Homo sapiens: one gene and its partners. The protein of the gene in region 1 purifies or fractionates together with the protein of each later gene. This does not show direct contact. Each region holds a gene or a part of one and is shown in the gene's direction. Other genes may lie near its edges.

What was found.
Region 2: the proteins of SRGAP3 (region 1) and ACAD8 purify together in Homo sapiens (affinity purification with mass spectrometry; 3 studies listed by BioGRID and IntAct, with this or other methods). This does not show direct contact.
Region 3: the proteins of SRGAP3 (region 1) and PGGT1B purify together in Homo sapiens (affinity purification with mass spectrometry; 3 studies listed by BioGRID and IntAct, with this or other methods). This does not show direct contact.
Region 4: the proteins of SRGAP3 (region 1) and CLOCK purify together in Homo sapiens (affinity purification with mass spectrometry; 3 studies listed by BioGRID and IntAct, with this or other methods). This does not show direct contact.

What each region holds. Positions count from the first base shown.
Region 1 is NC_000003.12:9,057,392-9,064,821, reverse strand, and holds part of SRGAP3 (SLIT-ROBO Rho GTPase-activating protein 3), read left to right. Parts: intron 1-240; coding exon 241-426; intron 427-4,462; coding exon 4,463-4,591; intron 4,592-6,349; coding exon 6,350-6,571; intron 6,572-7,430. UniProt on the Homo sapiens protein: GTPase-activating protein for RAC1 and perhaps Cdc42, but not for RhoA small GTPase. May attenuate RAC1 signaling in neurons.
Region 2 is NC_000011.10:134,249,276-134,256,950, forward strand, and holds the start of ACAD8 (isobutyryl-CoA dehydrogenase, mitochondrial), read left to right. Parts: upstream 1-4,292; 5' UTR 4,293-4,325; coding exon 4,326-4,434; intron 4,435-7,272; coding exon 7,273-7,373; intron 7,374-7,675. Other genes in the region: THYN1 (thymocyte nuclear protein 1), read right to left, coding at 553-645, 1,000-1,068, 1,855-2,033, 3,565-3,607.
Region 3 is NC_000005.10:115,210,830-115,218,259, reverse strand, and holds part of PGGT1B (geranylgeranyl transferase type-1 subunit beta), read left to right. Parts: intron 1-1,286; coding exon 1,287-1,395; intron 1,396-5,676; coding exon 5,677-5,858; 3' UTR 5,859-5,952; coding exon of another isoform or gene 5,953-5,982; 3' UTR 5,983-7,430. UniProt on the Homo sapiens protein: Catalyzes the transfer of a geranyl-geranyl moiety from geranyl-geranyl pyrophosphate to a cysteine at the fourth position from the C-terminus of proteins having the C-terminal sequence Cys-aliphatic-aliphatic-X.
Region 4 is NC_000004.12:55,438,709-55,446,138, reverse strand, and holds part of CLOCK (circadian locomoter output cycles protein kaput), read left to right. Parts: intron 1-1,353; coding exon 1,354-1,506; intron 1,507-2,242; coding exon 2,243-2,452; intron 2,453-3,504; coding exon 3,505-3,707; intron 3,708-7,430. UniProt on the Homo sapiens protein: Transcriptional activator which forms a core component of the circadian clock.

The sequences.
Region 1 (7,430 bases):
CTTAGTTAGGGCTTAATGATGTTGTTGTTGATGATGATGGTGATGGTAATGACCATCATCATCATATCCAGTCCTCAGAGAGTCTGTGCAAAAGTAAAGGAAGGCAGGTGCCCAGAGTGTGTTTTGGGACCAGGGCAGTGGCCAGCTAGAGTGTAGAACTTGGTATGGAGCCAGGAGTAACAGGGAGGGCCGTGCTGGGCCATAGCTGGCTGCTGATTTCCCCTACTTGTGCACCCCCAGGTCATGAAAACCTACCACATGTACCATGCAGAGAGCATCAGTGCGGAAAGCAAGCTGAAGGAGGCTGAGAAGCAGGAGGAGAAGCAGTTCAATAAGTCAGGAGACCTCAGCATGAACCTGCTCCGGCACGAGGACCGGCCCCAGCGCCGCAGCTCTGTGAAGAAGATTGAGAAGATGAAGGAGAAGGTGAGTGGGGGCCCTGGGCTGGGAGCGATTGGGGACAGGGCACAAAGGGGAGGGCCATGGTCTTGGCGGACAGCCTTAGCCTTCCCCCTTATTCCCCTGCATCCCAGTGGGGTGGTGGTGGGTAGGGGGGATGGGACAATGTAGCCAGCATCTCCTCTTTTGGAGATCGGTGTCCTAGTGGAAGCGGAGCCAGGCATGCCCGTGCTAACACTGGTTAGGCCTGGCTTAGTGCTAAGGTCAGCAGGCAGACGAGGTGCTCAACTCACAAGAAAGCTGAACTGTGACGAGATTCACACCCAGCAAGCACCTTCTCAGATGAGCTGGAATCACAAGGCATTAGCGGGAGCAGGGGCTTGTTCCAGAGGCCAATTTGATGGCCAAGGGTAGGGGCGGGGGGTGAGGTGGGAACTGATTGCTGAATGTGTCTCAACAAGAGGGACCAGCACCTGGAAAGCTGGTGAAGGGCTCATTCCAAAATTGCCATTGCCAATTCAAAGATGAGAGAGTTAGAATCCCTGTGTATTGATTCTGGAAAAGTCCTTTAGTAGGGTGTGGTGGGAGGAATTCTAGCTTTGGAGTCAAATGAGCTGGGTTTTGAAAATGCCACGTTTACAACACCTCTCTGAGCTGCAGTTTTCAAATCTGATAGGAGTGGCAAATTCGTCTCATCTCTCATGTCAACTCTGATCAATTGCCCAGAGCACTGGGCTGAGAATTGTGAAACTCGAAACAGATTTAGTTAAAAACAGTGCTGTAGGGCTGGCCACAGTGGCTCATGCCTGTAATATCAGCACTTTGGGAGGCCAAGGCGGGAGGATCGTTTGAGCCCAGGAGTTCGAGACCAGCCTGGGTAAAATGGCAAAATTCCATCTCTATTTATGAAAAAAAAAAGGCAAAGAATTTGAATAGATGTTGCTCTTAAAAAAACATGTATGAGTGGCCAATAAGTACATGAAAAGATTGTCTGGGCCAGGCATGGTGGTTCACACCTGTAATCCTAACACTTTGGGAGGCCAAGGTGGTCAGATAGTTTGAGCCCAGGAGTTCGAGACCAGGTTGGGCAACATGGCAGAACCCTATCTCTACAAAAAATAGAAAAATTAGGCAGGTGTGGTGGCATGTGCCTGTAGTCCCAGCCACTTGGGAGGCTGAGGTAGGAGGATTACCTGAGGGAGGTCAAGGCTGCAGTGAGCCATGATCACATCACTGCACTCCAGCCTGGGCAACAGAGTAAGACCCTGTCTCAAAAAAAAAAAAAAAAAAAAAAAAAAGATTGTCTCTATTATTAGTGATTAAAGAAATGCAAATCAAACTCAGTGAACTATCACTTCATACCCACAGGGATAGCTAGAATTAAAAAGGCAGACTATAGGAAGTATTGGTGAGAATGTGGATAAATTGGAATCTTCACACACTACTAAAGGGAATGTACAGTGATTCTATCACTTTGGAAAGCAGTCTAAATGTTAAACATAGACTAAGTTACCATGTGACTCAACAATTTTATTCCTAGGTATCCACCCAAGAAAAATAAAAACATATGTCCATTCAAAGACTTGTACATGAATAGCAGCATTATTCTTAATAGCCAAAAGATGGAAATGACTCAGATGTTCATCTGCTGATGGATGGTTGAATAAAATGTGGTATATCCATGTGATGGAATATTATTCAGCCATGAAAAGGAATGAAGTACTGACAAATGCTGCAACATGGATGAACCTTGAAAACAGTATGCTAAATGAAAGAAGTCAGTCACGGAAGACCACATATTGTGCAACTACATTTATGAAATGTCCAGCATAGACAAATCTATGGAAATAGAAAATAGATGATTGGTTTCCAGGGGCTAAAGAAGAGGAAAATGGGGAGTGACTGTGAATGGGTGCAGCATTTCTTTCTGGGGTGATGAAAATATTCTAAAGTTAGATAATGATGATGGTTGTGTGACTCTGTGAATACAGTAAAAATAAATAAAAATAAAATAAAATAACCAAGCAGGGAATGATAGGACTACAACATAGGGAGAAGGAGAGAGGTAGAGTGAGTGCTGACTGGAAGTCCAGAGGCCGATTTTTAGTTCAGAGTTGTATTTTTGGTTCGATTAGCTACTTGGCTCTTGGGCAAGCCACTTCTCTCCAGTTCTCATTTCCTCATCTATAAAATAGATGAGTTTAATGAAAATACCTTTAACATCCTTTCTAGGTATAACATTTTATGAGTCTATGAAGGGCTAAAAAATGGTCTCAGGGTCATGGTCATAGTTGTCCACTGGAAATAGGCCAAGAATATCAAAACTCTCTGTGGGGGGTCAGGTGCATGGCTGGCGTAGGATGTAACTGCCAGGACCCTGGGGAAAAGTTAGAGATCTCTGAAGAGAATTAAAAGGATGAGAACTCACTGTGGAATAGGAAGGTGTAAGAATGTCTAGGCAAAGGAGAAAAACCATTTATTTACAGAGACCTGACTTTTTACACAGCAATGGGACTCATCAGTCTGAAAGGAGCAGGGGACAGCTCTCCAGCCCACTTCCTCTTTCCTGCTCCATTCCCAGGCTGGCTTAGCCAGGAGCAGCTCCCTGGGGGGCAATTGGGTCCCTGCTGAGATGGGCGGCTCTGGCTGCCCCACCCCACCTCTCCCATCCAGTCATCCTCCCTCCCTCCTGTCCTCCAGTCACTGAAAATGACTGAAAATGACCTTGTGCAGGGACAGTTCTGGGCGCTCCAGACCTAGCAATGAACAAAGCAGATCAAGTCCCTAACCCCACTTATTTTCTAATGGGAGATCACTGACAATCAACAAGTAAATAAAAGGGTAGAAAAAAATACAGTTTCAGGTGGTGGAAGTGCTTATTAAGAAAAGAGCCGGGCAGGGGTGGGCAGAGGGAGTGGGAGAGGTAGATGAGCTTGTCATCGAAAGCCAATCTGGCCTTGAGACCTTGGGCCAAGGCTGAGGGAACCATGAGTTTGAGGGCCTTGAGACAGGAATGAATTTTGCCTCTTAAAGGATGGACCAAGGAGGCTGAGCAAATGAGGGGGAGCCTGGGGGAAGGTGGAGCTTGAGAAGTGGATGGGACAAGGCCATGGAGGGCTTCTCAGGTGCGAGCAGCAGTTTGAGACATCACTGGAGGGTGCTGGGTAGGGGTCTTATTGATTGATTGATTGAGACGGAGTCTCCCTCTGTCACCTAGACCTGGAGTGCAGTGGTGCAATCTCTGCTTACTGCAACCTCTGCCTCCTGGGTTCAAATGATTCTCCCATCTCAGCCTTCCAAGTAGCTGGGACTATAGGTGCATGCCACCACACCCAGCTAATTTTTGTATTTTTAGTAGAGATGGGGTTTTGCCCTGTTGGCCAGGCTGGTCTTGCTCTCCTAACCTCAGGTGATATGCCTGCCTCAGCCTCCCAAAGTGTTGGGATTACAGGCCAACGCTCCTGGCCAGGGATCTTATTTACACCCCACCCTAGCAAGGACCGTCAGAGGCTGCTGCTCATCTAGTGTCCTCATCGGCTGTGCAGGTGCAAGGTGCAGGTGTAAGGGGAGCTGCCTGAGTCCAGGTCCAGCCCTTACTCATCTAGCAGATGGAGGTCTTCCATAGGTGTGGCTGTGCAGGGCTTGGGTGGCAGGCAGCTACTATAAAGAAAAAAAAAACCACTGGGCCGGGCATGGTGGCTCACGCCTATAATCCCAACACTTGGGAGGCTAAGGTGGGAGGATGGCTTGAGGCCAGGAGTTCCAGATCAGCCTGGGCAACATAGTGAGACCCCACCATCTCTAAAAAACTTGAAAAACAAAAACAAAAACTAGCCAGGTGTGATGGCATGCATCTATAGTCCCAGCTACTCGGGAGGCTGAGGTGGGAGGATTGCTTGAGTCCAGGAGTTAAGGCTGAAGTGAGCTATGATCACACCACTGCACTCTCACCTGGGTGACAGAGCAACACCCTGTCTCAAAAAAAAAAAAAAAAGGAATAGAAAATCACAAACCCCGTCCTCTTAAATGGCTTGCTCTTACATCTACTCTTTTCTTCTTCCAGAGGCAGGCCAAGTACTCTGAGAACAAGCTGAAATGCACAAAGGCCCGGAATGACTACTTGCTCAATCTGGCAGCCACCAACGCAGCTATAAGCAAATACTACATCCATGATGTCTCTGATCTGATCGATGTGAGCTCCCTGGGGAGTCTGGGACTGAGCAGGGCCCACACCAGGGCTGGCACATGTCACTGGCTGAAGGAGGGGCTGGTCTTTGTCTTTACCTGACATTCTCGGGTAGCCACAGCTCTTTTGAGCCCTGCTGGAGGGGAAGGGCAGTGATTTGGGGAGGTGGAAAATGAATGTTACCTCGTGGTGTCTATTTTCACGAGTGGGACATGGGCCTCTGGTGGCCCCAGTGCAGTTGGCTTGGGCAGTTGTATATCCAATGGCAACTTCCCAAGTACCCTCCTGGACACCAGGTCCTTTGCTGGGTTTGAGGGGTTCAGGGGGGAACCATACACAGTTCATGCCTTGGGGGATTTCCCAGTGTGGTAAAGGAGATGTTATTAGTAAAATGTTTGGCGCCCCTAGGGCCACTCAGCCAGACACGTGTACATGCGAAAGAAAGTAGCGAATGAGACAGACTTAATTATACAGATCAGCTTTGTGTGGGGAAGTTATCTCGGGAGAAATCGGGCAGCTTAAGCAAATGGAGAACGGAACACTGACTCCCGAGTACCCGCTGTGCAGGACACGCCACAGGGACAAGCAGACTGGGAGAAAGAACACTGTGAGCGGTGGTGCTGGGGAGGGCTTCTGTGTCATCTAAGTAGGAGCCAGGACTGTTTCTCTCATGTCCTCCTTCCTGCACCGATGGGGGAGCTGGCCCTGTCCATGTTTAGTAAAGGCTTGGTATGGTCGATGGACTCTTTTCCTGGTGTATCCTGTCGGGAAGTCAGGGGGCTCCTGCTTTTCCCGTGGCTCCAGAGGGGGCCCCATTGTCAGCATCGCAAGGAGAGGGAGCTCCCAAATGGCCCAAGGCCAGACCTTCCTCTTTCCTGCTTTTCGCTTTCTTTTTTTGCCCTTTCAGCCCCTTTATTCATTCATTTACCATATATTAATTGAGCACCTGCTGTTGTCTGGAACTTGAGGAGCAGGAGCAGTGGGTTGGCCCTCGGGGAGCTTACCTCGCCAAGGACATGTTGATAGGTGATTTTAATACTAAGTGGCAGGGGTCACAGTGAGAGAGGTAGAGGGAAATGTGGACCCCTGGAGGAGGATCACCTGACCAGCTCTGAGTGGGGAGAACATCAAGGAAGCTTTCCTGGAGGAAGTGACCTCTAAACTGAATTCCGAAAGAAGGGTATTCCAGGCAGAGGGGATGCATGCACACCACCCTAAAGAAGAGAAAGATGGGCTCACGCTTGTAATCTGAGCACTTTGGGAGGCCGAGGCGGGTAGATCACAATGTCACGAGTTCGAGACCAGTCTGGCCAACACAGTAAATCCCTGTCTCTGTTAAAAATACAAAAATTAGCTGGGCTTGGTGGTGGGCACCTGTAATCTCAGCTACTCGGGAGGCTGAGGCAGGAGAATCGATTGAACCCGGGAGGCGGAGGTAGCAGTGAGCCGAGATCGTGCCACTGCACTCCAGCCTAAGTGACAGAGCTAGACTCCGTCTCAAAAAAAAAAAAAAAAAAAAAAAGAGAGAGAGAAAGATGGTGAATATAGGGAACCTAGTTCTGCTATTGCCCAAATCTCAACCGCAACTCCCCTTGAGGGGCGCCGTGAGGTTTGTGCAGTAGGATTCCAAAGTGCCTTGGGGCCTCCGGGATGGAAGATTCGGCTGTGGAAAGGGAGGTAATTGTAAGTCACTGTGGTGGCCAGTGACCGCCCCTCCACATCCTGGCTGTCACCCATAACCTTCCGTTGTTGCCTCTCCCCAAGTGCTGTGATTTGGGCTTCCATGCCAGCCTGGCCCGCACCTTCCGGACCTATCTCTCAGCTGAATACAACCTGGAGACCTCTCGCCACGAAGGGCTGGATGTCATTGAGAATGCAGTGGACAACCTGGATTCCCGAAGTGACAAGCACACAGTCATGGACATGTGCAATCAAGTCTTCTGCCCTCCACTCAAGTTCGAGTTCCAGCCCCACATGGGGGATGAGGTAGGCTTCCTCCTGGAGCCCGGGCTTGGGGCTGCTTCCCTCTGTTCCCCCATGTGCTCCAGTACATCATCCCTGGTTGCACGTACAGAAAGTTTCTATCCGACGCCTGGGGTCAAGCTCCTGGTTCATGGGCTTCCCCAGCTGAGGAGTTTACCACTAATACCCTCATCTTGCTGTCTCAGGTGCCCCCCGTGCAGAATTACAGGACCTTGGCTTCCCTTATAACCCCTCCCAGCTATGTCTAGAAGACTCCAAGGGAGCCCCAGTCTGCACACAGGCTCATGTTCTAACCCCACATGTGCGGGTGAGGTCCACGGGAAGCCTGGGCCTCACTGTAGCCTCAACACAGCCATTCAGGCTGGTGCATTCCACCAGGGCGCTCCCTTCCTCCAACACTGCAAGCCTTTGATACACCAGACGATCGAGTTTCCTTCAGTGCTTGTGCTGCTCAGATCCTTGTTATATTCTGAATAAAACAAACGAAAAACAAATGGAAAGAAGGCCCTTGTCACTGGCCCCAACACAGCCCTACTCGTTACCCAAGGCTTACAAAATCCCTTATGCAAATAGTTCCCTGAGCTTGTCTGTGTCACTGCTCCCTCGGGGCATTGGGGGAACCCACTCCAACAGTGTCCCAGACCCAGCCAGCCTCTGGGTCCCAGTGAGGCTCAGCTGGGCCACCCGTGGCACCTGCTGGGAGGGGAGGGGCAAGGAGGCATCCGAGAAGATGGCATTTGCTAGACCCTCTGCATGGCTCTGCCCACTTACTTCTGCAGGGCTGCACTGCTGTGTCTGCCCCATCCCTCTCAGTCCTCCCGATCCATCACCTGGACCTGAAAATGCTGGCCTCATGGTGACC
Region 2 (7,675 bases), on another chromosome or scaffold:
AAAAGCTTTGAATCATCTGCCTGCAGTCAGCTCCACAGCCAATCTTTTAATCCATATCCAACTTTCATTTCTTCCCTGCACATTCTTAACCCATCTGCCTTGCTGTACAGCCAATGGGGGCTCAGATATTTGGAAACAATATATAGTCTAATATATAGACTAGGAAATCAACTCTGTTTTTACAAAAGTCTTAAAAACATGCTCTAAAAACAAATGGCAAAGGTTATTACTGGTACCACTGTTTTTTTCCCCTCTGCACAGTTAATAATTTTATCCTGATAAGCTTGGAGGAGCTATCATCAGGCCTGTTTTCGAGTGAGATCAAGACTTAGAGGTGGAGTGAAGTCTGTGCTAGTCGGACCTGAATGAAGGCCTGCTTTGAGTTATCAGATAGGAAGGGGCCAGGGCAGTTTTTCCCTATTCCTGTAAAAGGGGGATGGGGTGGGGGGGAGTGTACTTTTTTGTTGCCTAATTAAGGTATATCCCTTTATATCTACTTAAGTTAGTCTCCCTGGAGGAAAAGGGATTCACACCAAAACCTGCCCAACTAACCTTCATGAGTCCTGCGATGCCTGGCTCTTTGCAGTTGCTATGGTAGAAGAAGGCTTCTTCTCCCAGCTTCATGGCTCTAAGGAAGTTCCGAGCCTGTCCCGGGAGAAGAAAGAGTAACTATCCTCCCACCAGCTGGAAAGTACTAGCTTTTAGCAGAAATCAAGTCTGCTTTTAATAGATGGGTGATTCTTGTCTGCAACTCCTCAATTCATTAGAAAGTCCTTCCCCTTTGCCAGGACACCCAGACTTTTACCAGGACATTGGCCAGAACACAGGCCAATTGAAAATTTCATGCAGAGTACTTAAGGCATTTTTTAATACATTATCAGGTTTGCTTCTGAGAAAAAGCAACCTTGGCCAAGAGGTTCTGCTACTGAGTACGTCATGAGGAGGAGGCAGGCATTCATCCCACCTGGGTCTCAGGCGACCTCCTCCTTACCCTCTTACCTGGTAGTTACGAACACCATCCCAGCATGTTGTCTGTTTGGGCTGTGCTTTGAGATCCTCAATGCTGAACTAGGCAAGAGGAAATAAATTCAATCATTAAACAATCCTTGGCCAGTTAGTAAGCACATATGGAAGCAGACAGTTCCTTCCCCTAAAATGAGAGGGGCCACTGGCTATAGAGGAAGTATGTAGTTCACCGGGAAGTGGCTCCACAGAGACACTTTTGCTGGGTGAATGTAAGTAAGCCTTGTGTTACCTTGTTATCCTTGCTAATTATGAGGATTAGCTGAATGAATAATCTAGGTGATAAAGTAATCTGCTAGTTACTTGCATTTTACTTTATATTTATAATAGTTCTGCTTATATTTTTCCCAGGCTATATTAAATTCCCTGAAATATACATCAACTGTTGGCAGGGAGACACCTAGGAGCATGGCAGGTGTTCAGAGAAAGGTAACCTAAGATTGAGGTTGGCAGACTATAGCCTTCAGGACAAATCTAACCCCATGCTGGATTTTGTGAATAAAGTTGAACTTGAACACAGCCACAGCTGTTTACTTATTATCTGTGGCCACTCTCTTGCTACAAGGGCAGGGTTGCAACAGAGACTGTAACACGCACAAGCCTACAAAATTTACTATCTGGCCCTTTGTGGCAAAGGTTAGCCAACCCCTGCCCTAGATACACAGGTTCACAAACCAGCTGATGATAATAAACCCTGCCGATTTTATTCATTTTTACCTTTTTCCTTCCCTTCAAAGATAAGAAGCTGGGGATGGAACCCTATGGTGTCCCATATTCACTTCTCATTTAAAAAACACCATGAAGGGACTGGAGACAGGTCAAGGGTCTCACCTTCACATCTACACCTTTCTCTAGGCGGCTCTCTGGCTCTGACTTCATCAGCCAGTGGCTGCTTAGATTCTTCAAACAGTTTTTAGTGGCTGAAGTCTTCTGAGGGTTGGAGTCCTCCACTTTAGCTAATGCCTCACCTGAGTTCTCAGTTTTGGTGCGTTTTCCTGATAGTCCCTTGTCTGCAATAGGAGAAGCAAAAAGAAAAGATCATGCTTGTTAAAGGCAATGTTTCATAATGGAAAAAGCTTAGCTTTGGAGTCAGACCTGGATTCAAATCATGGATCCATTACCAGCTGTAGGAACTTAATCTTACTGTTAAGAAGCTTTCCTTATCTATAAAAATTAGACAAGAATACCTACCTTACAGGGTATCTTCTGGATTATCTATTCAATAGGGTAAGAACACCTTACAGGGTTGTTCAGGATTAAAGGTCCGGACAGTAGTCAATACATGTTTTCCTTTCCTCACTCTCTCTTCTATGCCTTTGCATAGGAAAGAGGAAACTGAGCACCTACTTGCAACTATTTTGAAGCTTAAATGAGGTAATACAAAGGGCCTAGACAATGCCTGGCATTACAATAAGTGCATAATAAAAGCATTATTATTCTCATCTCATACGTCTTTCCTTCTTGCTCACTGTGGCTCCTGGCCCATCTCCTTTCTGCTCCTTGAAGGTGCCAATAAAAGTTGAAAGAAACAGTTCATTCAGGACATTGTAGAAAAATGGTGATGATTCGATTTCATCCCAAGACAATCAGAATGTGCCTGGAACACAGTAGGCATTCAGTAGCTAAGTTGTTAAATTACTATATGACAGGGCCCAAGGTCTATGTGTTACCCTAACCCTAACTCGGTTAATCTACATAACCTGTGAGATGTTCTACTCTTCATCTGGGAAGCATGCTCCAGATCACACATCCAGTAATGGTGGAATCAAGATATGAGGTCAGCACCTGTCACTGAGGTCTATCTGAAGCTACTTAATGACTATACTGCCTCTGAATTTAGTCAAAGTCCCTACATCAATTGTCATTAAATACCATTTATGGCTGTCTAATGCTCTGAACCCAGCATACCTTCCTAACCTAGTTTCCTAATGGCCCCTTAGGAGTTAACAGGCCCACTGCAAACACCACATATTGATAAATAACTGCAATGTGCTGTAGTATATCTGGAACCCCTGTCATTCCCAAAAGAGGTACTTTCTGTACCTTCCAATGTTCCTCCTCCTCCATCCACTTAGAATGCCATCCATCTTTGTGATTATAAAAACGACATCACGTTTTCTTAGTACTAAACTTTGCCCGTGGAAAGTCTCCCATTCTTCAAGGCTGGGCTCAAATTCCACATCCTTCTCGAGGCCTTCCCCGTGATTCCTCCCTCCATAAACTTAACAATCCATTTTCCTGAACCCCATCACATCTGTTTGCAGTTCACCCGCAAGCAGGCGCTTTATATTCTTTAGCACGCCACCTGGTATCTCAAAGAGTCTTTGTGCACAACAACCATTGCCTGAATAAACAAGAAAAAGGAACTGTAGGTAGGAGCTTGGTGAGACAAGTAAAGAAGATGGAGAGTGATTAAGGATAATGGAGTAAAAATATCACAAAGGGTTCTCAAAAAGCAGGGAGTGAAAAATGAGTACTAAACAGGCTCTTCGAGAAAAGTTTTTTCTTGGGCTGCCTTTGTGCAGCCTAGGGGCAGCTCACCTGAACCAGAAGTCCCAGCCAGCCTCTTCCGGGGTCTCGACATGGTCACGCTGCAGGGGACTTTAGTGCGGACGATTCTGGAATCAACGGAGATACAAGAAAGAATGCTAATGTCCTCCAAAACCCGCGCAGAGCGAGATGGAGGCAACGAGAGGCAGCCTAGAACGTCTCCAACTTTTGCGAAACACAGACGCCTACGTTTGAGCCCTCAAATCCTTCCCTCCGTTATCTGCGCCATTTCCATCTCGCATAACCTGCCCCTAAACTCTTCTCGGTTCTGTCCTTGGTCCTTCTCATCCAGGAACCCCTATCTCAGTATGTAGTTCACTGGGAAGTGGCTCCACAGAGACACTTTTGTTGGGTGAATATAAGTAAGCCTTGTGTTACCTTGTTATCCTTGCTAATTAGGATCAACTGAATGGATAATCTAGATGATGAAGTAATTTGCTGGCTACAGACCCAACACTCTGCAGACTCGACTGCGGTCCGCCTCCGCTGCGCCGCAGGCTGTGCAGCGCGACCCCCGCGGCGCTTGGTGGGCGGTGCATCTCTGCGGCGCCGAGGCCCCGAGGACTTCTGGGAATTGTAGTCCTGTCCCCTTGGGAGCCCGCCTGGCACCTGGGTTGTTAGGGCTCGTGGGAGGACTACAACCCCCAGGGTGCAGTGGGACAGGCGTTGCCGGGTCGCAGGTCCCGCCAGTGCGAGCGCAACGGAGGTCGAAGGCGTTCAGACTCTTAGCTGAACGCGGAGCTGCGGCGGCTATGCTGTGGAGCGGCTGCCGGCGTTTCGGGGCGCGCCTCGGCTGCCTGCCCGGCGGTCTCCGGGTCCTCGTCCAGACCGGCCACCGGAGCTTGACCTCCTGCATCGACCGTAAGGATCTCCTGGCGGGCAGTAGGACAGGTGTCCAGAACCCCGGCGGACATATGTCCGCGAGGGGCTGCAGTCTCCCCGTTCCATCCAGTCACCCCGGCGTCAGCTCCCCTTCCGGCCAGTCACCCCCCCGGCCTGGCTCCCTACTCCGGCCGGTCACCCCCGGCCTGGCTGCCCCCTCCGGTCGGTCACCACCATCCGGGTCCCCATCTGGCCCGTCACCCCTGCCCGGGTCCTCCTCCGGCCGGTCACCCCCGCCCCGGTCCTCCTCCGGCCGGTCACCCCCGCCCCGGTCCTCCTCCGGCCGGTCACCCCCCGCAGGTTCCCCTCCGGCCGGTCATCCCCCCGCAGGTTCCCCTCCGGCCCGGGTCCTCCTGCGGCCGGTCACCCTCGGATGCTTAGAGAAGTGAAGAAACTTGGGGCTTGGTTGTTGTTGGGTTGGTTGGTTTTTAATCATAACAGTAGGTCATAAAAGCAGTGAGAATATAAGAAGCTGGCTGGGTGCTGATGGTGACAACTGCACAAGAACTCCAGGTCATACAAGATTTGCTCACACACAAAGATTTGGTATCTTAACACCTCTGGCTATAAGACACTTTTAGTGTTGAAACTCATGCAGGAAAAATAATTATTATTGCCAGTGGGAAACTCTACCAGAGCTGACAAACTTGAGTGTCTTTAGGCTCTGAACAGTAATTTGAATGTAGCGAGGAGTGGTGGAGACCCGGCCAGTTTGTGACTTCTCTGCCAAGAATGTTTATAAACACTTTTTTCTTCTGAAATATTTTTAAATTTATTTTAAATAAATGGCAGTTTTCTTTACAACAGAATAAGTCCCTTAGATATCAGATCTATAAAGTACAGTAAGGCATAGAATACTGTTTTCTTCTGAATGTCCTAAAACTCATTCAAGAGGTGCTGCCCTGGCCTAGCGCTTAGAATTTGATAACCCAGATTACCCTGGTTGATACCGAAGCAGATAAGGAATTATTTAGAGGTGGGTTTTGTTATTGTTTGCATCTTGCTTACACTTGAGTGGCTCTGCAGTCAAAGGCTTTTCCCATTTCATTTGGAGTGTTTTTCTATTTAGCTTTACCTTTTTAGTGTATATGTATTGGCATCTTGAGCTCTGCTAGTAACTATGTATTGGCATCTTGAACTCTGCTAGTAACTGGCAAAGTTCATGAGTGGTGGTATTTGTTTTGTTTTTATACTGTATTTCCTTCTGGGAACTTGTGTTTACTTATGCATATGATTTGCATAAAACTATTTCCTTCCATTAGAATGCAACTCAGATTTATTTCTTAAGCCTGTGGTTCCTTGAACTATTTGTTTTAGGAAGTAGCCATTTACAGAAGAAGAAGATTTGTTAACATTTAATGAGCTCTTGCTAGGATTGAAATAGTCATCCTTTGTGTGAATGGATCTTATTTATTTATTTTTTTGAGATGGAGTCTCTTTCTGTTGCCCAGGCTGGAGTACAGTGGTGCGATCTCAACTCACCGCAACCTCTGCCCCACGGGTTCAAGCAATTCTTGTGCCTCAGCCTCCCAAGTAGCTGGGATTACAGCACATGCCACCATGCCCAGCTAATTTTTATATTTTTAGTAGAGACGGGGTTTCACCATGTTGGACAAGCTGGACTTGAACTCCTGACCTCAAGTGATCCACCTGCCTTGGCCTCCCCAAAGTCTGGGATTACAGGCATGAGCCACTGCGCCTGGCTGGATCATATTTATTTTTGTAACCCCAGCACTGCTACCTAGTAAACACCCAATAAACATTCTTTTGGAAATGATCTTTGAGCCATGGTCTACAGTAACAGCAACCCTTGTACAAAATTGTGTGAATAAATGGCCTGACCCCAGTCAGAGAACCATGAATTGTTTATCCCTAACTCTGTTCCTGAGGGTAATACCCAACATAGGTTTCTGCTCTGAGTTTCTCAAGGCAGCCTAATCGTTAATCCTCAGAACTCTTCATTTCTGACTTTCCCATTTTAATGAGAGTACTGATCACAGAAAGCAGTGCCCTCTCCAGGCTCGCATAGCCAGCCATTACTGATGCCCAGATTTGCCCCAAGGAACAGACTCTGGCACCTGCCCTTGTGTTCTTCTGTGAGGACTGCATCGCTTGTAGGCACTGAAGTAAATTATTGCCAAGTGTGGCGCCATAGTCTTCCCATAGTGCTCTTTTTTCTTTTTTTCTTCTTTTGAAACAGAGTCTTGCTCTGTCACCCAGGCTAGAGTGCAATGGCACAATCTCAGCTCACTGCAACCTCTGCCTCCTGGGTTCAAGCGATTCTCCTGTCTCACCCTCCCAAAGTAGCTGGGATTACAGGCATGCGCCACCACACCCAGCTAATTTTTGTATTTTTAGTAGAGGCGGGGTTTTTCCATGTTGGTCAGGCTGGTCTTGAGCTCCTGACCTCAGGTGATCTGCCCGCCTCGGCCTCCTGAAGTGCTGGGATTATAGGCGTGAACCATCACGCCCAGCCCATAGTGCTCTTCAGTGTCAGTTATAATGACCAAAGTTCTAGCACTGTGGCCTCAACCTCTAGGTCTACAACTGCATTTTACTAAGTGCTAGGATAAGAGATGTCTGGAAGTCCCCTATCCTGTTCTAGGTTGATCTGGATGTGTGCTAGAACTGTCCTTTCTCCATATGACAAGTGGAATAACGACAGAAGCTGCCATTCTCTAGCTGTTAAAGGCTATACCGTGTATGGGAAATACTACAGTAGATCCACTTTCACAACTTCGTGGTGCTTCTTGTTGGCAACACCTTGTTGGCAACACTGACCCTGTCCTAGAACAGTATATGCAATCCTGCCCACAGCTTCCATGGGACTTAATGAAGAGCAGAAAGAATTTCAAAAAGTGGCCTTTGACTTTGCTGCCCGAGAGATGGCTCCAAATATGGCAGAGTGGGACCAGAAGGTAGGCGTTTTTCTTGTGCTTAGACGTTCTAACAACAGATGTCTCAGGCAGACCTTTATCTTTGTCTCCTGATAATGTAATTGTTAAATGTCTCCTCCACTTACCAACTCTTACTGCAAGTGAGAATACCGGTAGTGGATGATTTTTCCTAGAAGGCATCCTGATCATCTTGTACATAACTTTTTTTTTGTTAGTTGAATAAAGATTTGGATATAAAACTAAGGCAGTTCTATAGATAATAAAAAGAAACTTCTTAATGCCAGAACAAGTTTTTACAGGACCCATGTTAACTGATAACCACT
Region 3 (7,430 bases), on another chromosome or scaffold:
GTTTTAATTCTTGTGGACATTACCATAACTTTAAATCACAGACTGACTTCTTATCACCTTTAGACATTATTGATGATTCCCAACTATGAGAAATTAAGATTTAGCCTCTCACTTTTCCAACAAATTGTTACCCGTTATAGTTAGTTCTGAATATTTTCCTCATCTTCTACCTTCCAATGCTATATAAGGTTACCTTTATTTTTATAATGTTAAGTTAGGACACATTCATATATTTGTTCAATATTAATAATCACATCTTTCAGCCTTTGCCTATAGGTTGATTCTAAAATTTAAAAACCAGTAATCAACACTTATTATGGGATAGTGAAAATATTGTTTATTGCTAAGCCAAGTGCAGTGTTACTATTATAATTTTTTCATTTTTATGTAATGACCAGTGTGCCACTGATGGAAAATATTCCTAACATCAAGATTCAAAAAAGTCTTTTTCCTTATATTTTATTAATTAAATCAATGTAAATGAATAAATTTGTTTCCTGTTTGTACCATAACTTTCTTATGAGTTTAGCTTTTCTTTTTGAGAAATAATGCTTCTTCATTAGTCACTAAAAGCTGTGGCTCTCTCTGGTTCATTAACATATATTAAATTGCTTTGTATCATCAGAAATGTCTTGAACCCTCTTACCTACTGTGCACCTCATCTTGAACTTCACAGTATTATTTATTTATTTGTATTTTACTTTTATGGGGTCTTGAGAGAAAAGCCAAGTACATGTCCTAAATCATTAAAAACTATATAGTTTTTTATGTTGCAATCATTTTTGTCTTACCTTTTTCTTTCCTAATTAAAGAGCTATACTTTTTTACTATTTTCAAAACTGTCTGTAGCATCTGGTTAGTAATTTTTGTTTGCTCTTTTTTTAAAAAATATTTTTAATTCCAGTTACTACTAGTTTATAACTAATAGCTCAAGAGCTTATCATAAGAGTTAAAATATGGGTAGATAAAATTGTACTTTTTAAAATGACTGATTATGTTGAGTGGATTCGAGTTGTCTTTTGAATTTAGCTTAATGTGATTTAAAGGGTTCAGTTGGCCTGGTTCAGAAGAAGGAAATAGAGAGTCGAGAAAAGGAGAGTAGATTTGATAAGAAAATTAAAAAGTTAATGTGATTTACTCATTTCAAAAGTGCTCAAGGCCCCAGAGACTTGGTCTGAGCACCTTAGCTAAAGAAAAGCATATCTAAATGACACGTATCTGAAATTTGAGCCAAAGGTTGATATGAGTTTTATGTCAGTAAATTTTTATTTGTCATGTCATTTCAGCTTCTAAAAATTTTCCAATACACTAACTTTGAGAAAAATAGAAATTACATCTTATCAACTCAAGATCGCCTTGTAGGGGGATTTGCCAAGTGGCCAGACAGTCATCCAGGTAATTATTTTCTTTGTGAATCAGAACAACCTTTATTTCCTGAATAGATCTTCAAGCATCTTTATCAGAAAAGGCATATGATAGAAAATATATCCAGTTGCAAAGTTACATTAAATAATATTTTTTAAAAGGTATATTGTGTAAGCTTAGGATAAATTTAGGGTATTAGAGAGTATAAATGAAAGAGTTTATTATCAAGATGCATGGGAATAGTGTGCATTTTTTCCCAAATATTTTACTTAGTAATGTTTTATTTCATTTGCAGCAATAATGTAGATGGTCTGAATGGGTCCTTTCCAAAGAAGAGAATTATTTAGGCCATCCAAAGCCGTTAGGATTATTAGTCATGACTTGAACTAAGTATAATAAATTACTCCCAATCCTGAAGGGAATCAGTTCTTACTCTTTTCAGAAGTCATTAAATAGGCCGGGCACAGTGGCTCATGCCTGTAACCCCAACACTTTGGGAGGTCAAGGCAGGTGGATCACTTGAGGTCAGGAGTTCAAGACCAGCCTGGCCAACGTGTTGAAACCCCGACTCTACTAAAAATACAAAAATCAGCCAGGTGTGGTGATGCGTGCCTGTAGTCCCAGCTATGCGGGAGTCTGAGGCAGGAGAGTCACTTAAACCCAGGAAGCAGAGGTTCCAGTGAGCCGAGATTGCACCACTGCCCTCCAGCCTGTGTGACAGAGCGAGACTCTTTGTCTCAAAAAAAAAAGTCATTAAATAAAATATTTCAAATCCTGAATATATGTGTTTCTCACTTCCCATACTCTTGTTCTCCAAATTTCAACAGATTCAGACAATATAAATGGCATGGCACTCAAGGCCCTTCCAAAATTTGGCTCCTCTCCCACCTCTAGCATCATTCTGCAGCCTACACCTCACCCGACATATGTTTTCACCTCCAGCAAAATGAGTCTATATACAGCTTCCCTATAAAAATCCATTTAAGTGTGTTTTGAAATAATTTCAAACACTGACACTTTTGATAAGCAAGTAGTTAAAGAATTAGTTACAAATATGAAACTAGACACAAGGAATGATTGTTTTTGCCAGTATTGCAATAGAGTCGTGGTTTTTATTATCAGCCTGGAAAGTGCCTCATCAACTCATCTTCCATCACAGAACTGCTGTGGTTGGAATGTGTGATTGAATCAGAATATAAATAAGGAGCTCATGAAATCAATTTTTGTATTTGAAATGAGCAGGAATATTTCCTTACACCCCTACTTGCCTATATTTTCATATAAAACATGCTTCCTAGGCCAGGAGTTTTGGCTCACGCCTGTAATCCCAACAGTTTGGGAGGCTGAGGTGGGCGGATCACTTGAGGCAAGGAGTTTGAGACTAGCCTGGCCACATGGTGAAACATTGCCTCTACTAAAAATACAATAATTAGCCAGGCGTGGTGGTGGGTGCCTGTAATCCCAACTACTTGGGAGGCTGGGGCAGAAGAATTGCCTGAACCTGGGAGGCAGAGGTTGCAGTGAGCCAAGGTCACACCACTGCACTCCAGCCTGGGCAACAGAGCAAGAGTACATCTCAAAAAATAAAATAAAATAAATGGCCGGGTGCAGTGGCTCACGCCTGTAATCCCAGCTTTGGGAGGCTGATGCTGGTGAATCACTTGAAGTCAGGAGTTGAAGACCAGCCTGGTCAATATGGCGAGACCCCGTCTCTACCAAAAATACAAAAATAGCCAGGCATGGTGGTGCACACCTGTAGTCCCAGCTACTCAGGAGGCTGAGGCAGGAGAATTGCTTGAACCCAGGAGGTGGAGGTTGCAGTGAGCCAAGATCTCACCATTGCACTCCAGCCTGGGCGACAGAGCGAGACTCTGTCTCAATCAATCAATCAGTAGTAAAACATGTCTTCTTAGAGAAAGTGTACATTGCTTTCAAAGTCGTAAGCCAAAGTGTGTCTTCAGAAGTTAATTTCTCAAGCAAAATAATATCTTGAAATTTTTGATATCTCTAGTGCCTCAAAACTGAGAATTATTTTGGTCTTCATTCCATTTTTTAAACCAGTGCAGGGTACTGTTTTAACAAATAATGGGAGTAGGGAAATGACAGTCTCTTAGGAAACATTTCTTGTATAAACATACTTGAAATACATTCAGTGTTTCCAATAGCTTTTTTAAAAGAAAGTTCTTGAGGCTTTTTCCGGAGAGTTCAGTTGCTAACTTTAACATTTGTGTAAATATTTGGATGTACTACTTACTTTTTACAGATACATTACAATGTTTTCAGAGTATGCAATAGAAAGCATAGAAGGGCTTTGCTAAATTGAATTTATGTGTAAAGATCTGGTCCCAGAATCTTTAATCATTTTAACAAGATTCTTTAAAATTAAGCTTATTCTTCATTCTAGTGAATTTAGTGGCAAATTTGATACAAAGGGATTTTATATACATTTATGAAAGAAACTTCAAAAGAATAACCTTTTATTGTGGAGTAAATATATATTTCAACATCTAAAGTGCTTTATTATGGAGTAAACATATAGTTCCACATCTAAAGTGCTTGTACGTTGCCACTTACAGATAAGGAGTTTTTTTAAAAACACAATTTGAGGCTTCAAACAATTGAGTTCTGATCTCATTGGCTGTTACAAAAATCTTTTTGAGAAACAAATAAGTTTTATTTGTTACTTTACCCAGAGAGATTTTAGTTTTACACAGTTCTATTTTATGTTATTATAGATATATATTTTCTGTTGTACTTTTTCCTAGAAAAGTTTCCTAGTTTCTAGAAAACAAAGCTTAATGTTGCTTTGTACCCTTTGTAGTTTTAGAATAACTATATGGATGTAATATGACAGGTGAAATCAAGTTTATTTTTTATAGTCTGAAAGTCAAAGGAAAGTGAGCCAGAAGAAACCTAAGTATTTTCTGAAAAGGCCTAAAAGGTGATCAACATGGGCCTCCATTAGTTAAATAACATTTTCACAATGGCATTGAGTAAGCACAGCTATTTGTCATTTCTGTTTTGAAAAATAAGTGATACTGTTGTAAGTAAAGCTTTTTCTTTAACTCTTTTGACAAAGTTTGATGTGGTAAGATGTGTTGAACTTTTTGTTGTTGTTGTTTTGAGACAGGGTTTCATTATTTTGCCCAGGCTAGAGTGCAGTGATATAATCATGCCTCACTGCAGCCTCAACCTCCCTAGGCTCAGGTGAGCCTCCCACCTCAGCCTCCCGAGTAGCCGGAACTACAGGCGCACGCCACCATACCTGGTAATTTTTGTATTTTTTGTAGAGATGGAGCTTCACCGTATTGCCCAGGCTGGTATCGAACTCCTGTGGCTCAAGGAATATGCCCTTCTCGGCCTCCCAAAGTGCTGGGATTACAGGTGTGAGCCACCACACCCAGCCTGTTTTGAACTTTAATAGCTCTTAAGGCCATAAATGTCGGCCAATTCAAAAATAGAAAAAAATTTTGACTGGTACAAAACTGTCTTTTTAATGTTCCTATAACTGCAAAGCTCTGAGCTCTTCAGAAGTCTACATAAGACTCCTAGGCAGGAATGGCCATGTGATTTCATTGGCCACTTTAATAGAAGAGGATCGCTGCCCCCTGAAAGATGGGAAACTAGTGAGCCAGTGCAGAATTGTCATGGTATGAGCACTCATATTATTTCAACCAAATAGAATGTGAGTTTGTTTTTATTGTCAGATCAGATATTTTTACAATGACTGACATTACCCTAAATAGGAGGATTAAATATGGCACAGCATTCCAGAATGGATTATTTTTGCATAAGCTCCTTTTATTTAACACAATGTTAGGATAGTACTGCATATGGTTTAGGAACTTTCAGAGGTAAAACGTGGAGCGAGGGATATTGCAACTTAGATTCAGAGTTTTGTTTTCGTTTTAAAGAAAAAAAAACTTAATGATATAGCATTGAAGCTACTCGTTTTCATGTTCTCTAGTAAGCAAGAGGGGAAACTCCCCAAAGTGAGAAGTCTTACATATGACTGCTGCTACTCCTGTCTTTTAATCACAGAGGTTATGGACAGTATCAGCTCTTCAGCTGGAAACTGTTTTCCTTTGTTAATGATATTTTCATGAATAAAATATTTTATTTTGATCATCTGAGTTTTTTTTTTAATTGGTGTTTGAGGCTTTGAGAAAGCAAATATTTTTAAAACTATATTAGCATTTCTCTAAACTTACTTTTAATGGAGTGATGGGCTGGTAAATATGTGGCTAAAATATTCTGTAGAATGTACAAGTAAGAATGCCTATTATGATGTTTTAAATGCCTTCTTTTCAGATGCTTTGCATGCATACTTTGGGATCTGTGGCCTGTCACTAATGGAGGAAAGTGGAATTTGTAAAGTTCATCCTGCTCTGAATGTAAGCACACGGACTTCTGAACGCCTTCTAGATCTCCATCAAAGCTGGAAAACCAAGGACTCTAAACAATGCTCAGAGAATGTACATATCTCCACATGACTGATTTTAGATTGGGAGGGTGGGGGGATTTGTAGCATAACTGTAGCTCAAGTTTAAAAGCCATGTATAACCAAGTGTGCTCTTTTTTTAAAAGGTAGAGTCTTACAATCAAATCTCCTGCTGATTTCACTTTGGGATATGGTCTTGAGCCAGTAATCTTTATACTGGGTTTCAAGAAAATCTTTGTTGAAGTTTGAACCACAACTTTGTCGTGGTTCTTAAATGTTTATACTGTATTTCTAAGAAGTTGTTTGAGGCAAATTAACTGTATGTGTGTAGGTTATCTTTTTAAAAACTCTTCAGTGCAAATTGTATCTTATTATAAAATGGACACAAATTTTCAAGTTTACACTTCATATAGCATTGATAATCTTCAGGTGAACACTTAGTGATCATTTAAAAAGCTCACTGCTGATCGTAGAAAATTTGCTTTAATTAATTAAGTATCTGGGATTATTCTTTGAAAACAGATGACCATAATTTTTTTTAAAGAAGAGTGACTTATTTTGTCTTATTCTTAAGTAAAGTGTGCCAATTAAACCTGTGTGGCCTATATAAATGAAGTTAATAACTTCATAGTAAGAATAAATAGGTTTAACTAATGTGATAGTTTTCTAAAAGGAGATTGTTTGAAGACAACTATTATGTAACTGAGGGAAAAGCAACTTAACTGTATGTGATTGTGAATGAGAAAGTTTTGTGCTATGTGGGTCATTTATCTAGACATTGCTGTGGTGAATACCAGTTATGTTTGATTTTATTCTCAAATCATTAGTTGCCTTTTTTTTTTTTTTTTTTTTTTTGCTTTCTAGGAAGAAAACAATCTTTTTTATCTAGAAGGAAAGATACTTTGTGTTTTCATTTTTAGCCATTTGAAGTTTTTAATTTATTGCCCCCAGTGTGTTAGCTGCTCTAATTTCAAACTAATACTTTTCTAATTTTTTTCAAATTAAATAAGTAAAAAATACAAAAACAGAACCATTCAAACAGATTCAGTGGTGTAACTCAATACATGGTCATTTTTATTCTCATATTTTCAGGTAAGTGAAAGGGAAATGCGACCATTTAGAGGGTAAGAAATAGGGTTTTGTTTTTGTTCATTGTTTTGTTTTAAGTCTATGAACTAGCTAATTATAAAGGAGGTAGTATAAAAACTCTTCATTAGTAATTAATTTATCAATAACTCATATCCGTTACTTGCTCAGTGACATTCAGAACTATTGCGTCTAGTACTGAAATGGGGAAAGAAATCTCTTCACTAAAGGAGTTGGCTTTAAGTTAGTCTTGGTGATAATAAATGTTGAAATACAAGTATCAGTATAAAAACTGGATTACTGGTATCACTGTTTAGGCATTGTAATACTTTAAATGTTATCTTTTTTTCTAAATCAGAGGGAAAAAAATGTTGTGAAATAACAGTCCTTCCCAAGGGAAACACTGTGTACTTGGAGAAATGATTGATTTATTATTGGCATGCTTAGTTTTAAACCTGAGTTTGCCAACTGTATGTTTTTTAATTAGAAATAAAATAAATCTTCTGATGGTGGGGGAAAAAGTAAGCTTAATAACAGA
Region 4 (7,430 bases), on another chromosome or scaffold:
TTGGGTGACTCTGTCTCAAAAAAAAAAAAAAAAAAAAGAAGTTAAATTTTTTTCCAGTAAGTGGTAGCCACAATATGAGCTCAGGTCTTGTAAATCCAGGGTGTATGTGTAATCAGTCAAGTATCCAGTCAGAAGCCAGAAGCATACCAGAAATTTGAACAGGAATAATATAAAAAATTATTAACTGGTAACACGGATTAACTCCTAAAAGAAGTAAAGAGAACCTAAAGAATATAGGAATAAAGCTGGGTGTGGTGGCTCATGCCTGTATTCTTAGCACTTTGGAAGGCCGAAGTAGGAGGACTTCTTGAGCCAATGAGTTCAAGACCAGCATGGGCAACATAGCAAGACCCTATTTTTACAAGAAAATACATTTTTATGTTAGCCAGGTGTGGTGGTGCATGCCTGTAGTCCCAGCCACTGGGGAGGCTGAGATGGGAGGAGCTCTTGAACCCAGAAAGTTAAGGCTGTAGAGAGCCATGATCGCACCACTGCTTTCCAGCCTGGGTGACAGAGTGAGATCCTGTCTCAAAAAAAAAAAAAAAAAAAAAAAAAAGAATATAGAAATAGCAGATGCAGAGAGCAACCACTAGCTGTAAGGTAGATGGAGAGTACCCAAGGAAGGAACATACTTAGAAGACTCCCCACAAGCTCCTAACCTCCTCTTCCCCCATGCCAGGCTAAGATGCAGATCTTCTTGGGGCAAATGTGGCTATAGCAACTGGATAATAGAGAAGTTCACTGACATGCCACAGATTAGAGGTAGAGAGCTGGAAGCCATCAGCTGGGGTACTGGTAAAGCTTGCAGGGAAGCTGCCCACTAGGATGTCATTGAGACTTGCTGGAAAGCCACCTGCCGGGGCAGGTGTATGTAAAAGTGAGAAATGTCCTTCCCATCCAAAGCTTTTTAACTCTATCTTCAATAGTTTGTATTTGGGATACTAAATTACATTTCAGGGCACACAACTTTGATTTCAGAAATTAACAATAACCAGACCATATCATATGTTAAACGTGGTTGAGAAAATATTAAAAGCTTCCCGTTGGCACCCTGACATAAGAGCAAGAAGCACCAGAACCAGGAGTTGAGCACTTTCTTGGCAGTGTCCCTCCAGCACCACCTACTGATGTGGATAACTTTGTGCCTGCTGGCAAAGGAGAAATATTTTGAAGGTCCAGGTCCAATATTACAAAGCAGAGCAAAGATGGGTGGATTAGAAACTAAGGGACATAACTAGTGAAGGATGTTATCATCCTTCACTCATGTTATACTGCTTACTTTTCATGTTGTGCAATTATAAGGAGTAAGTAATTCTAAAATATATTACACTTTTTCCGTACATGGTACTTCAGTTTCAGTTTTCAGCTCAATTAGGAGCCATGCAACATCTGAAAGACCAATTGGAACAACGGACACGCATGATAGAAGCAAATATTCATCGGCAACAAGAAGAACTAAGAAAAATTCAAGAACAACTTCAGATGGTCCATGGTCAGGGGCTGCAGGTAATTGTTATATTTGAATACAAACAAAGCATCCCATTCACATTTTGGATTTCTAGGAAAATTAACTTTTCTTAATTAAAAGTGAGATGCAAGAGATACGTTTTATCAATTCAGTTCAATAAATATTCACTGGTTACCTACTCAGTATGATTATACTTACAGTCTCTAAAGATAATTTGTTTCTGAGGGTATTTCTGTCAACATCCTTGTTTCTCCAGTCATCTTTTTTTACCAGTCCAAATTTTAGTAAGTTTGAATCCATAATATAAAAATTATATTTTACATAAAGTTTTAGGTACATCTTGGGTACAGAATTTATAAATCAATCATCAGTAATATTTTTATTAAGATACCAGTATGTATGATTCAAATTAGTCTTATATGACCAACCAGCAGGACCACTCTAGGAGACTATGACTTTGGTAAAGGGAAACTTGGAGTGAAAACTACTTCTGTGTGATGTTATAAATTATAAATGATAAGTGATACAGAGCTGTCAATCCACAGACTAACACTAGTTACACTTTTTCTAACAATTGGAAACAAGATAACTGAAAGATTGAATATAAAGTTTCATATTTTATTCACTACTTATTTATTGCTAATTCTTCAAAGTGACTTAGCCTTGTTACTTGCTTTTTAAACATACTTTGTAGCTTGATTTTGCCTTCTTTTTAATGCTCATTCTTCTTTTCAATCTACAAAGCTCATTTTAACATAATCTTTATTTTTAAAGATGTTTTTGCAACAATCAAATCCTGGGTTGAATTTTGGTTCCGTTCAACTTTCTTCTGGAAATTCATCTAATATCCAGCAACTTGCACCTATAAATATGCAAGGCCAAGTTGTTCCTACTAACCAGATTCAAAGTGGAATGAATACTGGACACATTGGCACAACTCAGCACATGATACAACAACAGACTTTACAGAGTACATCAACTCAGGTAATGTTACTGAGCACAGCGGGCTATGGAGTGATCAGTGGTTGGAAGGCACACTATTGCTGAAGCAGAAATAAAGCTCTAATGATAAAATATCATTTCAAAATTTAATAGTATTTAGAAAGTATAGTATTGAGAGTGATTATTAAAATATTTTGTGCAAATCATGTTAGTATCAAATATTTTCAGCTTTTTTTTTTCTTTTTTTTTTTTTGAGACGGAGTTTTGCTCCTGTTGCCCAGGCTGGAGTGCAATGGCGTGACCTTAGATTACTGCAACCTCCGCCTCCTGGGTTGAAGCGATTCTCCTGCCCCAACCTCCCGAGTAGCTGGGATTATAGGCACCCACCACCATGCCAGGCTGATTTTCATATTTTTAGTAGAGATGGGGTTTCACCATGTTGGCCTGGCTGATCTCAAACTCCTGACCTCAGGTGATCGCCCACCTCAGCCTCCCAAAGTGCTGGGATTACAGGTGTGAGCCACTGCGCCTGGCTGAGCTTTAAAATATGTCACAATCTGTTTAAAGATGTAGTCTAGTAGTTATACCAAGTTCTTGTAACTTAGACTATTTCTGTGTTTAAAAGGTATGACTTGCTCAAGAGGCTGACCAGGAAGCCTGTTCCCATATGTGCAGAATAGACTGTTGGGGGAGGGGGCATAATGGTTTATTGAATATTCCAGAAAATGTTGGTAATTACTGTAGATCTGTGACTGTAAATCCCAAGGATTTAAATGAAAAATAGAAAAATGCCCACTAATTAGTCATTCACTTTGGGCATTTAACAGAAATTCTTTGAGTATATTTTATATCATCTCTATTACAATCACACTCCTTTCTAAAGTCATAGCTTGCCTTCCAGCAAGATATTCAAGACTAATTCATTCTCAGTTACCACGAGTCATTCCTTTGTGGTTATATTTCCCCCAGAGTAATATATCCTGCCACTTCTTTCTCTGTCATATTGTCATATTGTTAGAATGATGAATTCTAGCATACTTCCCAAATAATTATTTTCAGTTAATCTGTCTATAAAATCTCTTTATTTTTAACAGAGTCAACAAAATGTACTGAGTGGGCACAGTCAGCAAACATCTCTACCCAGTCAGACACAGAGCACTCTTACAGCCCCACTGTATAACACTATGGTGATTTCTCAGCCTGCAGCCGGAAGCATGGTCCAGATTCCATCTAGTATGCCACAAAACAGCACCCAGAGTGCTGCAGTAACTACATTCACTCAGGACAGGCAGATAAGGTAGTTGTCATATTTCATTTGTTATTTTTAAAATTGTAAACCGATTGATTAGAAAACAATAATTTGATTTCTTAATCAAATTTTTTAATGTGATTTTAATGAGATGCTCACTGCAGCCAATGTTCTTAAATTTGAAATAAAAACACTGAATGTATTCATTGTTTAAAGACTTCATAATTAAAGGGTAACAACAAATTTTTTTTCTTGTCCAAAAATATGCTACAAAATATTATAGAATACAAATTCTGCAGCACACTGTTAGAAAAGGTTTATGACAGGCTCTGTGTCACTGTGAAGCTTTTGTCTTTTCAATATAGATGCTAGAGAATTTCCATGTAGTAACAGTGGTTAGGGTAGCTTACCTTTTTTAAGTTTGTTAAATGCTCAAAATATATTATCTCAAATAGTCATTTATTAAAAGAAAATGTATGTGAGGGCCTCCTTTTATTTCCCAGATAAGAAAAAAGTGAGTTTTCAGTAATTAGCCAAGGGATCTATAGCTAGTTAAGGTGATGAGGAAGGGAACTCTGAACACAGACCTTGGTGTCTTCATTTCAGTGCTTGAGTGCTTAAGCATATATTACAGGAAGGTTTTGTGGACTGCTCTGGAAAAACAACCATCTATAACTTATTTTAGTGCACTGATCACCTGAGTAGTGCACATTCTATCCAATATGTAGTTTTTTATCCCTCACCCCCACCATCCTCCTCCAAAGTCTATTATATCACTCTGTATGCCTTTGCTGTACCCATAGCTTAGCTCCCACTTACAAGTGAGAATATATGGTGTTTGGTTTTCCATTCCTGAGTTACTTCACTTAGAATAATGGCCTCCAGCTCCATCCAAGTTGCTGCAAAATGCATTATTTTTTCTTTTTTTATGGCTGAGTAGTAGGCCATGGTGTATACATACCACATTTTCTTTCTCCACTCATTGGTTGATGGGCACTTAGGTTGATTCCATATCTTTGGAATTGTGAACTGTACTGCGATAGCCATATGTATGCAGGTGTCTTTTTGATACAGTGACTTCTTTTCCTTTGGGTAGATACCCAGTAGTGGGATTGCTGGATCAAATGGTAGATCTACTTTTAGTTCTTTGAGAAATCTCACGTTCCCACCAGCAGTGTGTAAGTGTTTTCACCACATCTGTGCCAACATTATTGTTTTTTGACTTTTTAGTAATGGCCAGTCTGGCTGGGTAAGGTGATATTTAATTGTGGTTTTAAGTTGAGTTTCCCTGAACATCTATCTTTTGAGGGGGACAGAAACCACATCTTAGCAAACATTTGAAGGCCTACCTAGATGAGTATGGCATCGTTCCTTCCCCAAGGGAAAGACCAAACTAGTAAAAGCAATAGAAAGATAAATCGGTATTGTTTGGGGTGATGAATACTTCAGAGGTCTTTAGAAAGGAGGAAGTGAGCAGTTTTTTGTTGTGTTGTGTTTTGTTTTGTTTTGTTTTTGTAAGCAGTTTCATGGGTTGAGGCAAGCAGGTGAATAAAGGTGTGGTCAGGAAAGCTTCACCAAGGCAGAGATACTTGCCCTGACTCTTCAAGACTTGAGCTTGGCTTTGGATGTGGGTGTGGCATGGAGTCTAGGGAGGCATTCTGGGCAGAGGGAGCCCAGAGTATACAAAGCTGCAGAAGTGTGAGTTACACGAAAGCAGATTAAAGAAAATATTCTTATCACATTTACCAGTGAGCCATGGGCTAATTCAGGTATTAATTTAAGATTATGGAGAAATCAGCACTTAGTACTTCTGTGACTAAGTGTACTTTGTAAATATTACTTATTTCTTTGGACTTTCTTAATATGGACAATTTTAATTCTTTTTTGTTTTGCATTAAAGTATTTGGTTGTGTAGTGTATAAAATAGAGTATTTTATTGTCAAGATCTGTACTAAGTGTAATATTGTTACATAAACAGTTTGTAAATACAGTTATGTCATGCCACATCTATGTTAGTGTCATATCTCACTGTAATGACCAATGTTATAAACTTCATCTCACAGAAAAGGCAAATGGAAATAATATTGTTCCACAAAGAAGCATCATTTTTTTGGGGTTATTGTTCTTTCATTTCAAAAAGCAAAAGGAAGCAGGGAAAGAGGGAAAAATTAATGAATTCTAGCACAGAGGACGCTATGCTGCGTTGATGAATTTATAAATTGAGAGGAGTTTTTATTCACTGTTAGAATGTCATTTGGTTTTGAATTAAATTTGTAAGCTACAATTTTGTGTAAATTTCTTCTATAAACCTAGAGTTTAAAAAATACATTATAATAGCTTTGTTTATTCATGAACTGTGTGCCAGTGTAGCAGATGAATCATGTGCCACATATATCTGACACCCCTAGTACCTAGTAATTTTATAAAAAGAAAAAGGTTTTTTTTTATAGATTAAAAAAAATTTTTATTGTGGAAAAATACAAATGACATAAAAGTTACCATGTTAACCGTTTTAAAATATACAGTTCATTGTCACTGAGTACGATTGTTACCATCTCCCCTAACCATTTCCAGAACTTTTTTCATCTTCCCAAACAGAAACTCCATACCCATTATACAAGTCCCCATTCTTCTCTCCCCAACCACCATTCTACTTTCTGTCCCTGTAAATTGGACTAGTCTAAGTACCTCATATAAATGGAATCATACAGTATTTGTCCTTTTGTGAATGGCTTATTTTACTTAGGATAATGTTCTCAGGGTTCATCCATGTTACAGCAATTGTCAGAATTTCTTTCCTTTTTAAGGCTAAGTAATATTCTACTCTACTATGTTTTGCTTATTCATTCCGTCTGTCAATGGAGTCTTGGGTTACTTCCACTTTTTGGCTCCTGTGAATAATGCTGCTTATGATTATGGGTGTACAAATATCTCTTTGAGTCCCTGCTTTCATTTTGGGGGGTTATATAAGCAGAAGTGGAATTCCTTCATATAGTAATCCTATAGTGAATTTTTTGAGGAACTGCATACTGTTTTCCATAGTGGCTGCACCATTTTTACATTCCCACCAGCACTGCACAAGGTTTCTCTACTTGCTTGCCAACACTGGTCATTTTCTATTGTTGTTTGTTTTTTATAATAGCCATCCTGATGGGTATAAAGTAGCCTCTTGTTGTGGTTTTGATTTGTATTTCCCTAATGATTAGTGATGTGGAGCACCTTTTCATGTGCTTATTAGCCATTTGTGTATCTTCTTTGGAGAAGTGTTTGTTCAAGTTTGACCTTTGCCCATTTTTTTAATTGGGTTGATTGTTGTTGAGTTGAAGGAGCTCTTAGACATTCTGGTTACTAATCCCTTATCAGAAGGATGATATGCAGATATTTTCTCCCATCTGTGGGATGGGACAGTTACCTTTTTACTCTGTTGATAGTGCCCTTTGATTCACAAGATTTTTAATTTGATACAGTCCAGTTTATCTGTTTATCTGTTCTTTTGTTGCCTGTACTTTTGGTATCATATCCAAGAAATTATTGCTAATTCCAGCTGCTAACTATTGCTAAATCCAATGTCATGAAGCTTTTCCCCTATGTTTTCTTCTAAGAGTTTTATAGCATTAGCTCTTATGTTTTGGTCTTTGGTCCATTTCAAGTTAATCTTTGTCTGTGATGTGAGGTAAGGATCTAACTTTATTCTTTTGAATGTGGATATCCAAAGACGTTTTGTATTTTTGTTACACATTGATCTTGCTGTATGAATTTTTTGTTTTACTG